Linked DNA regions of Homo sapiens: region 1 is linked to region 2. Evidence: fine-mapped expression QTL. A gene starts in region 2. The other region holds a variant in brackets. All regions are shown on one strand. Distances are from middle to middle.

Region 1 (5,371 bases), 32 kb before region 2:
AATACAAACAAAACCTCTGCAAATTAATACTTTGTAGACATGCCAAGGAGGCATGAACTAAGAAAGACACCAGCAGCACGTGTAGGGATGAAATGAGGCTGAAACCTGTAAACCAGGGAGCCGTGTGATGCAATTAGAGATGCCAAAGTCCAAAATTAGGAAAGGATCGATCTAGTCAAGCCCAACTTGGTGGCAGGTAGAGAATAACTCACATTTCTAGGTGGGCAGCCTGTGCCAACCACAAACCATCCCTGGGCTGCCTTCCCTGCTGATCTATAATTGGTGGGTCAGTGATGGAGCTACCAATTATCTTGAGGCCCCCTGTATTTAGTTCACAGACAAAGGGAAGCAGGAGAGACCAGTTAGTAATGAGTAAGTAATGGCCACGAAAATACATTGTATTATACAAAGCTGCTTCGGCAGGAAAAGCCATTTGGAAAATAAAGCGTAAAAGAATAAAATAAGCTGGAGAAACTCAATTTTCTCCTCCCTTCCTCCCAAAGCCACACTTAGGATAAAATGAGGTTTGTGCAGGTTAATCCTTAAGAGGTAAGAAAAAAATGATTAAATACATTTAAAAAATCAATTGTACATTAAACCAAATCCAGGAACTGCAAAAACAAACACGGCAGCGTTCCTCCAGCCGGCATTAGCTCTGCCAGTCTGGTCAGTAGGGGATACCCCCACCTGATGGAGCCCGCTGAGGTCACAGAAGACAAGCAGAGAGGAAGGGGAGAGAACCAGGGCTGGGGAGTGGGATGGGACCACAGATCTGGATTTCACTGGAACTGAAGTTATTTCTAGATATTATAAAGAAATAAAATGCCTTACAAATGGGGCTCTGGGGACCAGGCTGAATTCTTCAAAAATCCAATAGAAATAATAATAATGAGAATCATTTGATAAACAGAAATTATAAACCACCTTACTGTCAAATGATGTGCCACTATTTCTCGTTATTTCTTCTGTTTATTAACAAATTCTATTAACTGCCATTTTTCAGACAACAGAGAGCTGGAGAGGTGAGGTTAAGAGGCATGCCTTTGCCGGGCGCGGTGGCTCACGCCTGTAATCCCAACACTTTGGGAGGCCGAGGCAGGCGGATCATGAGGTCAGGAGATTGAGACCATCCTGGCTGACATGGTGAAACCCCATCTCTACTAACAACAAAAAAAAATTACAAAAAAATTAGCCGGACGTGGCGGCGGGCGCCTGTAGTCCCAGCTACTCGGGAGGCTGAGGCAGGAGAATGGCGTGAACCTAGGAGGCGGTGTTTGCAGTGAGCCGAGATCGCACCACTGCACTCTAGCCTGGGCGACAGAGCGAGACTCCGTCTCAAAAAAAAAAAGGAGGCATGCCTTTGTCTTTCAGGAATGCCACTCTCTGCAGTGGAGCTGGATGGAAACTCCCACCCTTCCCCAGTACCCTGGGATCTTCAGATGAAAGCCTGAAAGAATGCAAAGCCACAAGAAAGTGGCCCTAGGTCACCCGCTCCTCCCTCAGTGGAGTCAAGGCTGAGAATTCTTAGCTAATCCTAAATAAACCTCACATGGCTGAAATGTCACGGCCAATTTGCTTCCCCGTGTGGACTGCAACCATCTGGTTCTGCCTGCAACCAGCCTTTCTCCTCCTGGGCACCTGCCTCAGCCACACAGCTGGAAGATCTGGCAGGCAGGAGCATTCAGAGGGCACAGTAGGAGGTGCACTTCTGGGGGGGAGGGAGCTGGGACTCACTCTGACAAGGCACAAGTTGCCCATATGTCAGTCTTGGGCCCCCAATCTAAAAATCTGGCACATCCAAGGCCGGGCGCGGCAGCTCACGCCTGTAACCCCAGCACTTTGGGAGGCCGAGGTCAGGAGATCGAGACCATCCTGGCTAACACAGTGAAACCCCGTCTCTACTAAAAATACAAAAAAATTAGCAGGGCATGGTGGCGGGCGCCTGTAGTCCCAGCTACTCGGGAGGCTGAGGCAGGAGAATGGCATGAATCCGGGAGGCGGAGCTTGCAGACAGCCGAGATCGCACCACTGTACTCCAGCCTGGGTGACAGAGCGAGACTCCGTCTCAAAAAAAAAACAAAAACAAAAAACAAAAAAATGGCACATCTGCAATGTTCCCCTTCATGTGTTTCTGAAATAAGTCATTTAGAATTGAAGAGAAACCTCTGTAAGACTAGTTTGGATAGGGGGAGGGAGTGGGGTTGGGGGGAAATGCTGACAGGAAGAACAGGTAATCAACCATATGACAGTGGTATTCCCAACAGAATTAAAGACACGTGCCCATGGGGGAAAGTTTCAAAACCTCTAAACATTATTTGAGTGGGTTATCAATGTCTAGCTCTTGGCAACAAGTAAGATCTGACAGAAAGATTTTACTCTCTTAAAGACATCTCTATTCTCTTATCTTCAAAGCAGGTGAACTTTGCTGCCTTAACTCTGACAATGAGGAATTTGTGGATGTTGATAGAAACACAGATAAAGGATTTACCTGAGGGGGCAGAGAAAGTAGAAATAAAAGATCCTGGATATTGTATTTTCTTTACTTATGCGGATTCCAGTGACTCCCTGGAGACCTGCAGGCACCACTTTAAGAGCTGGAGTCCAGAGCAAATTGCTCAATTGTCCAACCTTCTCCCCGCCAGCAAGAGACAGAACAACAAGCGGCTGCTGCCCCCTAGAAGCTACCAGGGGCATAGCACCTTGCTATATAGACATCACATGAAAAGATCCTATTATCTCCTCTCCATCCCATAACCTGTCATTAGTGAGGTACATGGGTGCAGACGCCTCCTCTGAGCACAAGGAGGCACACATCACCTGTGATAAATTAATAGGCGCCTTTTCAACAGCTAAGATGCACACAAAAGACTCCAACCACGGAGAGCACACTAAGGCAGCAGCCTCAGAAAGGAGGTACAGAATCACCAGGCAGCACTGAGCATCGGCTGAAGATACGTTTGTGCAGCGGGCGCCCCGCACGCACGCTAGTGTGCCTGACAGCGCGGTCCACACCGCACCCATACCTGCTCTCCCCGTCTGCACAGGTTCAGCAGCATGGACACCAGCTTTCAATCCCAGTCCTGCCACTTCTTAGCTGTAGGAACTTGAATGCTCTGGGCTCAGTCTCCTCACTGCAAAATGAGTAATTCTCACAAATTTGTTGGAATCAAACAAAGTAACCAAAATAAAGACACCAACAGCGAGACCAAAATAAAGACACCAACAG[C/T]GAGGCCAGAATATTACAGAGTAGAAGCCCTCCTGGCCTATGTGATCGGAGCTAGTAATTGTTCGGTTAATCAAAAAATCAGTTAAAGCAGGGAATCAAAAATGGAACCTGCTCCACATACTGAAAACATTTTCTATTAACTGAAAACCTATAAACATTCAGTCACTGCTGATCTTTTGATGTAAAGCCAAGCCCTTTGCTTTGAGTGTGGGCCCACAGACTGAAGTTCCCAGACGTCTTTCTTGCATAAACCCTACCCATAACACAGCCTCCACAATTTCTAAAGCAAAGTAAGAACTTCAAGACATCAGTAAAGCAATCAAAGTACAGAATCCTTCTAGATGTTTATGATCTTCCTCTAATGTTTAACTGTCATCTCGCTCACACCTAATTTGACAGCAATGTTTTTAGCAATTCACATTTAGCAAAGCATTTAACTTAGTTTTCATAAAACTTTCTTTTCACATTTCTTTTTATAGAACACATTATAGCCAGGCGTGGTGGCTCACGCCTGTAATCCCAGAACTTTGGGAGGCCGAGGCGGGCGGATCACCTGAGGTCGCAAGTTCAAGACCAGCCTGACCAACATACAGAAACCTCGTCTCTAAAAATACAAAAAATTAGCCGGGCATGGCGGCGCATGCCTGTAATCCCAGCTACTCAGGAGGCTGAGACAGGAGAATCACTTGAACCTGGGAGGCAGAGGTTGCAGTGAGCAAGATCATGCCATTGCACTCCAGCCTGGGCAGCAACAAGAGCGAAACTCCATCTCAAAAAAACACACAAAAAAAGAACACATTATATTTGCAGAACCCTCTCTTCACACTCTTAGTTCACCTGTTGACATCATGTTTAATACAAGGACACAGGTTTAGGGACAAACTAGCTCCTGGGGTACAGATGAGTGTGGGAGAGACTGGCTGAGGACCTGCCTTGTTCAGAGCACCAAGAGCCTGGTGAGTACGTTCCATGGGACCCAAACAGCAAGTTGGTCAGACAGGGATGCCAAATGCAAGCTCTTGACACAGTTTTAAAAATATGTTCTTATTGATACCCCTGCTTCATTTCACAAAAGACTCTAAACGACTCTCAAAAGTACACATAAGCCTGTAATCCCAGCACTTTGGGAGGCTGAGGCGGGCAGATCACTTGAGGCCAGGAGTTCAAGACCAGCCTGGCCAACATGGCAAAACCCTGTCTTTACTAAAAATACAAAGATTAGCTGGGCATGGTGGCACACACCTGTGATCCCAGCTACTCAGGAAGCTGAGGCACAAGAATCACTTGAACCCGGGAGGCGGAGGTTGTAGTGAACCATGATCATGCCACTGCACTCCAGCCTGGGCAACGGAGCAAGACTCCGTCTCAAAAAAAAAAAAAATACACACAAGCTGGGCCGGGTGGCTCACACCTGTAATCTTGGCACTCTGGGAGGCTAAAGAGAAGGTTCACTTGAGCCCAGGAGACTGTGACCAGCCTGGCCAACACGGTGGGACCCTGTCTCTATAAAAATTTAAATAAAATTTAAATAAAATAAAAATTTCAAAGTACACACAAGACAACAAGATACAGCAAAGGAAAAGTATGGTAAAGGGGGGGAAAAAAGATTGTGTTTTGTTTTTGAGACAGGTCTCGCTCTGTCACCCAGACTCACTGTAATCACAATCTCCTGGGTTGATGCAATCCTCCTGCCTCAGCCTCCAGAGTAGCTGGGACTACAGGCTCGAGCCACATGTCCCACTAATTTTTGCATTTTTTATAGAGATGGCACCTCGTCACGTTGCCCAGGCTGATCTCAAAACTCCTGGGCTCAAGCAATTCTCTTGCCTCAGCCTCGCAAGGTGCTGGGATTACAGGTGTGAGCCACCATACCTAGCCTAAAAGATGTTTAATACCTGTTCTTTATTCTCCTTCTCCATCAAAATCCACTGTCGGTAAATGCTAGTTAAATGAAACCATTTATAGAAATAATCATTGGCCAGGTATGGTGGCTCATGCCTGTAATTCCAACACTTTGGGAGGGAGGCCAAGGTGGGCAAATCACTTGAGGTCAGGAGTTTTGAGACCAGCCTGGCCAACATGTTGAAACTCCGTCTCTACTAAAAATACAAAAACTTAGCTGGGTGTGGTGGCGCACACCTGTAA
Region 2 (5,371 bases):
AATAGAACTTGAAGAAAGGTTTAGATCCATTTGTGAGTGAAAACTCAGAGCTTATTAAATTGAATAATAATAATAATAGACAACACATTGTTTCAGGCACTGTTCTGGCATTTTTACATAAATAACTCATTTAAGGCCAGGTGCAGTGGCTCACGCCTGTAATACCAAGCTCTTTGGGAGGCCGAGGTGGGCAGGTTACCTGAGGTCAGGAGTTTGAGACCAGCTTGTCCAATATGGTGAAACCCCATTTCTACTTAAAAAAAAAAATTAGCCAGGCCTGGTGGTGCATACCTGTAGCCCCAGCTACTTGGGAGGCTGAGGCAGGAGAATCACTTGAACCTGGGAGGCGGAGGTTGCAGTAAGCCGAGATCGCGCCACTGCACTCCAGCCTGGTCAACAGAGTGAGACTCGGTCTCAAAAATAAATAAATAAATAAATAACTCATTTAGTCCTCAGAGCAACTCTGTGAGATAGGTCCTAGTATTTTCCCTGTTTTGCACATGGAGAAATTAAGTCTAGAAAAATTAAGTAGATCTGTCCGAGATGACATTGCTGGTAAGTTAGTGGAGTTAGGATTCCAAGCCAGTGGGTCTGGCTTTAGAGCCTATACTTGTAACCGCTATTCTACACTGCCTCTCAAGGGAAGAGAAGGTTATTCACCTTTAATAGCTGGAAACCAGAGATTGATATGACAAGGCTAACCAACAAACTTTCTGTGAAAGACAGAATACTGGCTCAGCCCCACAGTTCTAACCCTACACAACAAGGCGTGGGGGAATTAGCTAAACAATCCTTTCAATCCTACTCTGCTTTAATCGGAGAAATGGGAAACTGGATTGATCAAGACTTGAAAATGAAACAGGCAATTGCTGAAGAGCATTGGTTCATTCAAAAAGCGTGCATTTGCTTCTTGTTAGATAGCCATAGAGTCTGTTATGAAAAGTTCAAGTTTTGGCCAGGCACTGCAGCTCACGCCTGTAATCCCAGCACTTTGGGAGGCTGAGGTGGGCGGATCATGAGGTCAGGAGATCAAGACCATCCTGGCTAACACGGTGAAACCCCATCTCTACTAAAAACACAAAAAATTAGCTGGGCATGGTGGCGGGCGCCTGTAGTCCCAGCTACTAGGGAGGCTGAGGCAGGAGAATGGCGTGAACCCAGGAGGCGGAGGTTGCAGTGAGCAGAGATCGCGCCACTGCACTCCAGCCTGGGTGACACAGCGAGACTCTGTCTCAAAAAAAAAAAAAGAAAAGTTCAAGTTTTTCCCCCAGGCTGCCAGCATGTTCTGTGGCAATCCTACCTCCACCAGCTTTGGAAAGGAGGGCAAAGGAGAAGCAGAGCTGAAAATCAAACAAGTGATGGCCATGCCCCCTTAAAGGACCTTAGATCCTTTTCTATTAAATACATATACAGAGAGGGCAAACTTGCAAAACCAAAAGAATCCTTGGGCATAACAGTGGCTCCAAGTGGCAAGATTTTTAGTACTGTTTACAGCACTGGCAAATTAAATGTCCTATAAGAATCAGGAACAGAGCCGGGCACGGTGGCTCACGCATATAATCTCAGCACTTTGGGAGGCTGAGGCGGGCAGATCACTTGAAGTCAGGAGTTTAAGACCAGCCTGGCCAACATGGTGAAACCTATCGCTACTAAAATTACAAAAATTAGTCAGGTGTGGTGGCAGGCACCCGTAGTCCCAGCTACTTGGGAGGCTGAGGCAGGAGAATTGCTCGAACCCGGGAGGCAGTGAGCCGAGATTGCGCCAATGCACTCCAGCATGGGCGACAGAGAGAGACTCCGTCTTAAGAAAGAAAAAAGAATCAGGAACTGAGGACACCCTTCAATCCCAGCCTGTGGGCATTCCTAACACAAAACAATTCAGAGAAACCCAGACCCCAAGATGCCTTAGTATTTCAGCAAACTAAATGTGGTAAGGCAAGAAAGGAGAGGCCCTCCTCTCGAGACACTTGCCAAACTCCAGAACACCTGACAGTGAGAAGGCCAGAATCAGTCCTTGTTATCTCCCATGTTTTACAATCAAGACATCTTCTTCCTGAATCATTCACACTGCTAATAGAAACTGGTATGGGGGAACACACCAACTCCTTTAAGTTCAATTCTTGTAACAGACGTGCAGAATAAGACAGTAAGAAACACTAAGCGGTGGTCTTCTGCCTCTGAAGGAAGTGAAATACTAGTAAGTTGCTGAAAACTCTTAGAGGTGCTTCAAGGAGATGGGAGAGGAGGAATGAGGCCCCAAGTTGAAACTATTTTCTTCTTCCTCATTCTAATCCTAACTAAACTCAAAAATGTATGGATGACTAGTGGAGTCACACAGGTTCAATACAGGCTCAACAGAGCACACGATTTGGGGCATGTCACAAACCCTTAGTATTCATTTCTGTGAAATGGAGGTTAGTAGCCTGCACTTCATAAAGGTTGTAGTGAACACTAAACGAGATAATAGATGTAATTTGTGCTCAACATGACACCACACAGGCAGTTAAATGTAAGATGTCTCTTAGCCCTTTTCTCCTCACCCCACCCTACCCCACCTTTGGACTATAAACCCCTTCGGAGACCTTATCATCCACTGCCTCCCGGCCGCAGAGGCACAGGCGTCAACGCTGGTCCTTATGGTCCCCTTATTGGAGTGGGATTTGTCTGAATCTGCAGGTGAAAAGCTAGAGCGGAGCCCTCGGCCAACAAAACCAAACCCAGGGAAGCGAGGATGGGTCCTCAGCCAAAAGCTTGGTGGCGTCTGTTAGTCACAGTGCGTCCCTTTCCTATCAACGCACTGAGAGGGCTCGACTAGATTATTTCTGACTATCCAACTTGACGAGAGAAGCGCAAAGGTGACCACAGATGAAGAGGCTGGCAGCCGCTCCAGGAGGCTGAGGCCGTGAGGGAGTGGGAACCCTAATGGAAACAGGCCCCTCCCCGGAGGGGACAGCCGGGAACGATCGATCTATCCTCTCCTTCTCAAGCCCTCGCAGCTCAAGGCTGGGGACTTCCCAAGGGTCCCGTCACCCTCCCCAACAAGCTCAAGTGGGACCAGAGGTGCTGGCAGGCGGGAAGTGGGGACCCGGGGGCACAGCCAAACACCAGAGCCCGGGCTCCGGAATGTGGTCAAAGAGGGGTCACCGGGGGGAGGGGCCGGGTGGGGAGGACCTGGGGAGGGGCGGGGCTCAGGAGGGGGCAAGAGGTCGGGGTCCCCAGCTTCGGAGACTCGGGGTCCCTACCCGGCTCCCAGCCGTATGCTGAGCGCCCCCTCCAGCCGGGGTCTCCGCCGCACAGCGGGGCAGTCCCACTCCCCTTACCTGGCTCGGCTGCTCTGCCTGCTCCGAGGACGCCATCTTTCTGAGGCCTGACTAATCAACCGCCGCTGGGCGAGGTTTCTCCCAGGCGCCCTCGCTCTCGCCCTCCCGCCCAGACTAAGGTAGCCGGAACAGAGCCTGTCGATGTAGGGGACTGGGGCAGAGGGGTGGAGCCCGGGTGTCCGGGTCACCTTGCATAGTTTCCGTTAAGACTCTGCTTTCCAGGAAGATCCCAAGTCTATATCTTCTTTGCGTTGTTATATGTGTATTATTCTGGTTTTGCTTTTTTTTTTTGAGACGGAGTTTCGCACTTGTTGCCTAGGCTGGAGTGCAATGGCGCGATATCGGCTCACCGCAACCTCAGCCTCCCGGTTTCAAGTGATTCTCCTGCCTCAGCCTCCCGAGTAGCTGGGATTGCAGGCATGCGCCACCATGCCCGGCTAACATTGTATTTTTAGTAGAGATGGAGTTTCTCCATGTTGGTCAGGCTGCTCTCGAACTCCCGACCTCAGGTGATCTGCCCGCCTCGGCCTCCCAAAGTGTTGGGATTACAGAAGTGAGCCACAGCGCCCGGCCCATATTATTCTTATTGAGTTAATCTCTGCCCATCCCCACAGTGCCATGGGCACATTTAGGGACTTGCCAATGGATGAATGCGAAGAAACTTGGAAATTAATTTTTAGACATCAGTTCAGTTCCATTCATTGAGTGCCTACTATATGCTAGGGACTTTGGTAGGCCTTGAAATAAAAACATTCAAGACTCAATCCCTACTCCCACGCCCAGGCCAAACACACTTACAATTACAGTATTATGGGGATAGGACTCGGATAAGTGTGCAGGTCTATTGGGAGAACATAAAAGGGGGCATTTTGAAGAGAAGAGGCTTCTACAAAACGTCATTATTTTACACTGGTTGAATTGTTAGATTTTTTTAATTGTTAGATTTTAAATTAAATATTGGACGGGAGCAGTGGCTCACACCTGTAATCCCAACACTTTAGGAGGCCAAGGCAGGAGGATCCCTTGAGCCCAGGAGGTTGAGGCTGCAGTGAACTATGATTATGCCACTGCACTCCAGCCTGGGCGACAGAGCGAGACCTTGTCTAAAAATAAGATAAGAAAATAAAAAATGAAATTATATGAAAAAGGATACATACATTAGAGTTAACCGCCAGCTCCTATTATAGTTGTGTTTTGATCAATATAGACTGCTTAAAAGGGATGACTTAATGAATAATTCCTCCTACTAAACGCTGTTTTAAATGTCTAAACTTTTCTTGAGATAATATCCAATTTCCTCTCCCACGTTTTTTTTGTTTGTTTTTGCTTTTGTTTTTGTTTTTGCTTGAGACGAAGTCTTGCTCCTGACGCCCAGGCTGGAGTGCAATGGTGCGATCTGGGCCGACTGCAACCTCCGCCTCCCGGGTTCAAGCGATTCACCTGCCTCAGCCTCCCAAGAGCTGGGACTACAGGCGTGCGCCATCACGCCCGGCTAATTTTTGTATTTTTAGTAGAGATAGGGTTTCACCATGCTGGCCAGGCTGGTCTCAAACTACTGACCTCAGATCATCTGTCCGCCTCGGCCTCCTAAAGTGCTGAGATTACAGGGGTGAGCCACCGCCCCCGGGGCCCTTGCCCACGTTTTTATAAACAAAATATGAGGTGGGAGGATTGCTTGAGCCCAGGAGATCAAAACTGCAGTGAGCCATCATCGCGCCACTGCACTCCAGCCTGGGAGACAGAGCGAAACGCTGTCTCAAAAAAAGAAAAAAGAAACAAGGAAGGAAAGTGTCCCCCGAATGAATAAATATGAGCAGATAATTACTTCTAGTTTACATAAAATGCCCTCTTTTAAGAGAGGAACTTTTTGATCATTTTTATTACTATTCTTTTAATCTTAGATGTTTATTTTTCAGGAGGAAAAAAACAAACTTTTCCATAGTAGCAGTATTAAAACAAAGATGAATATGTTGTCAAGAGGCATCTGAACAATCTCCAACAGTGCCGAGTCGCATTTCCCCTTTCCTCTCCGATGCATTTGAGACTTTAAT

What was found. PIP is the estimated chance that this variant, and not a neighbour inherited with it, causes the effect. A credible set is the group of variants that fine-mapping cannot tell apart.
Region 1: its variant is the best candidate, but not a certain one, in a credible set for the expression of PEX14 in whole blood (TOPMed, PIP 0.52).

Annotation. Positions count from the first base shown.
Region 1 is chr1:10,504,921-10,510,291 of GRCh38, reverse strand. All of the region lies in intron 2 of PEX14 (peroxisomal biogenesis factor 14), which reads right to left. Among named protein-coding and RNA genes, the nearest start is that of PEX14, 33 kb to the right of the region's middle. RefSeq lists enhancers at 936-1,624, 2,799-2,858, 2,889-2,948. The variant C/T (reference allele first, on the strand shown) is at 3,227.
Region 2 is chr1:10,472,952-10,478,322 of GRCh38, reverse strand. It overlaps PEX14 (peroxisomal biogenesis factor 14), which reads right to left and starts at 3,373. Exons shown (of 9, transcript NM_004565.3): 1 at 3,321-3,373. The coding sequence starts at 3,356. RefSeq lists a silencer at 3,117-3,286 and enhancers at 3,287-3,476, 3,299-4,264.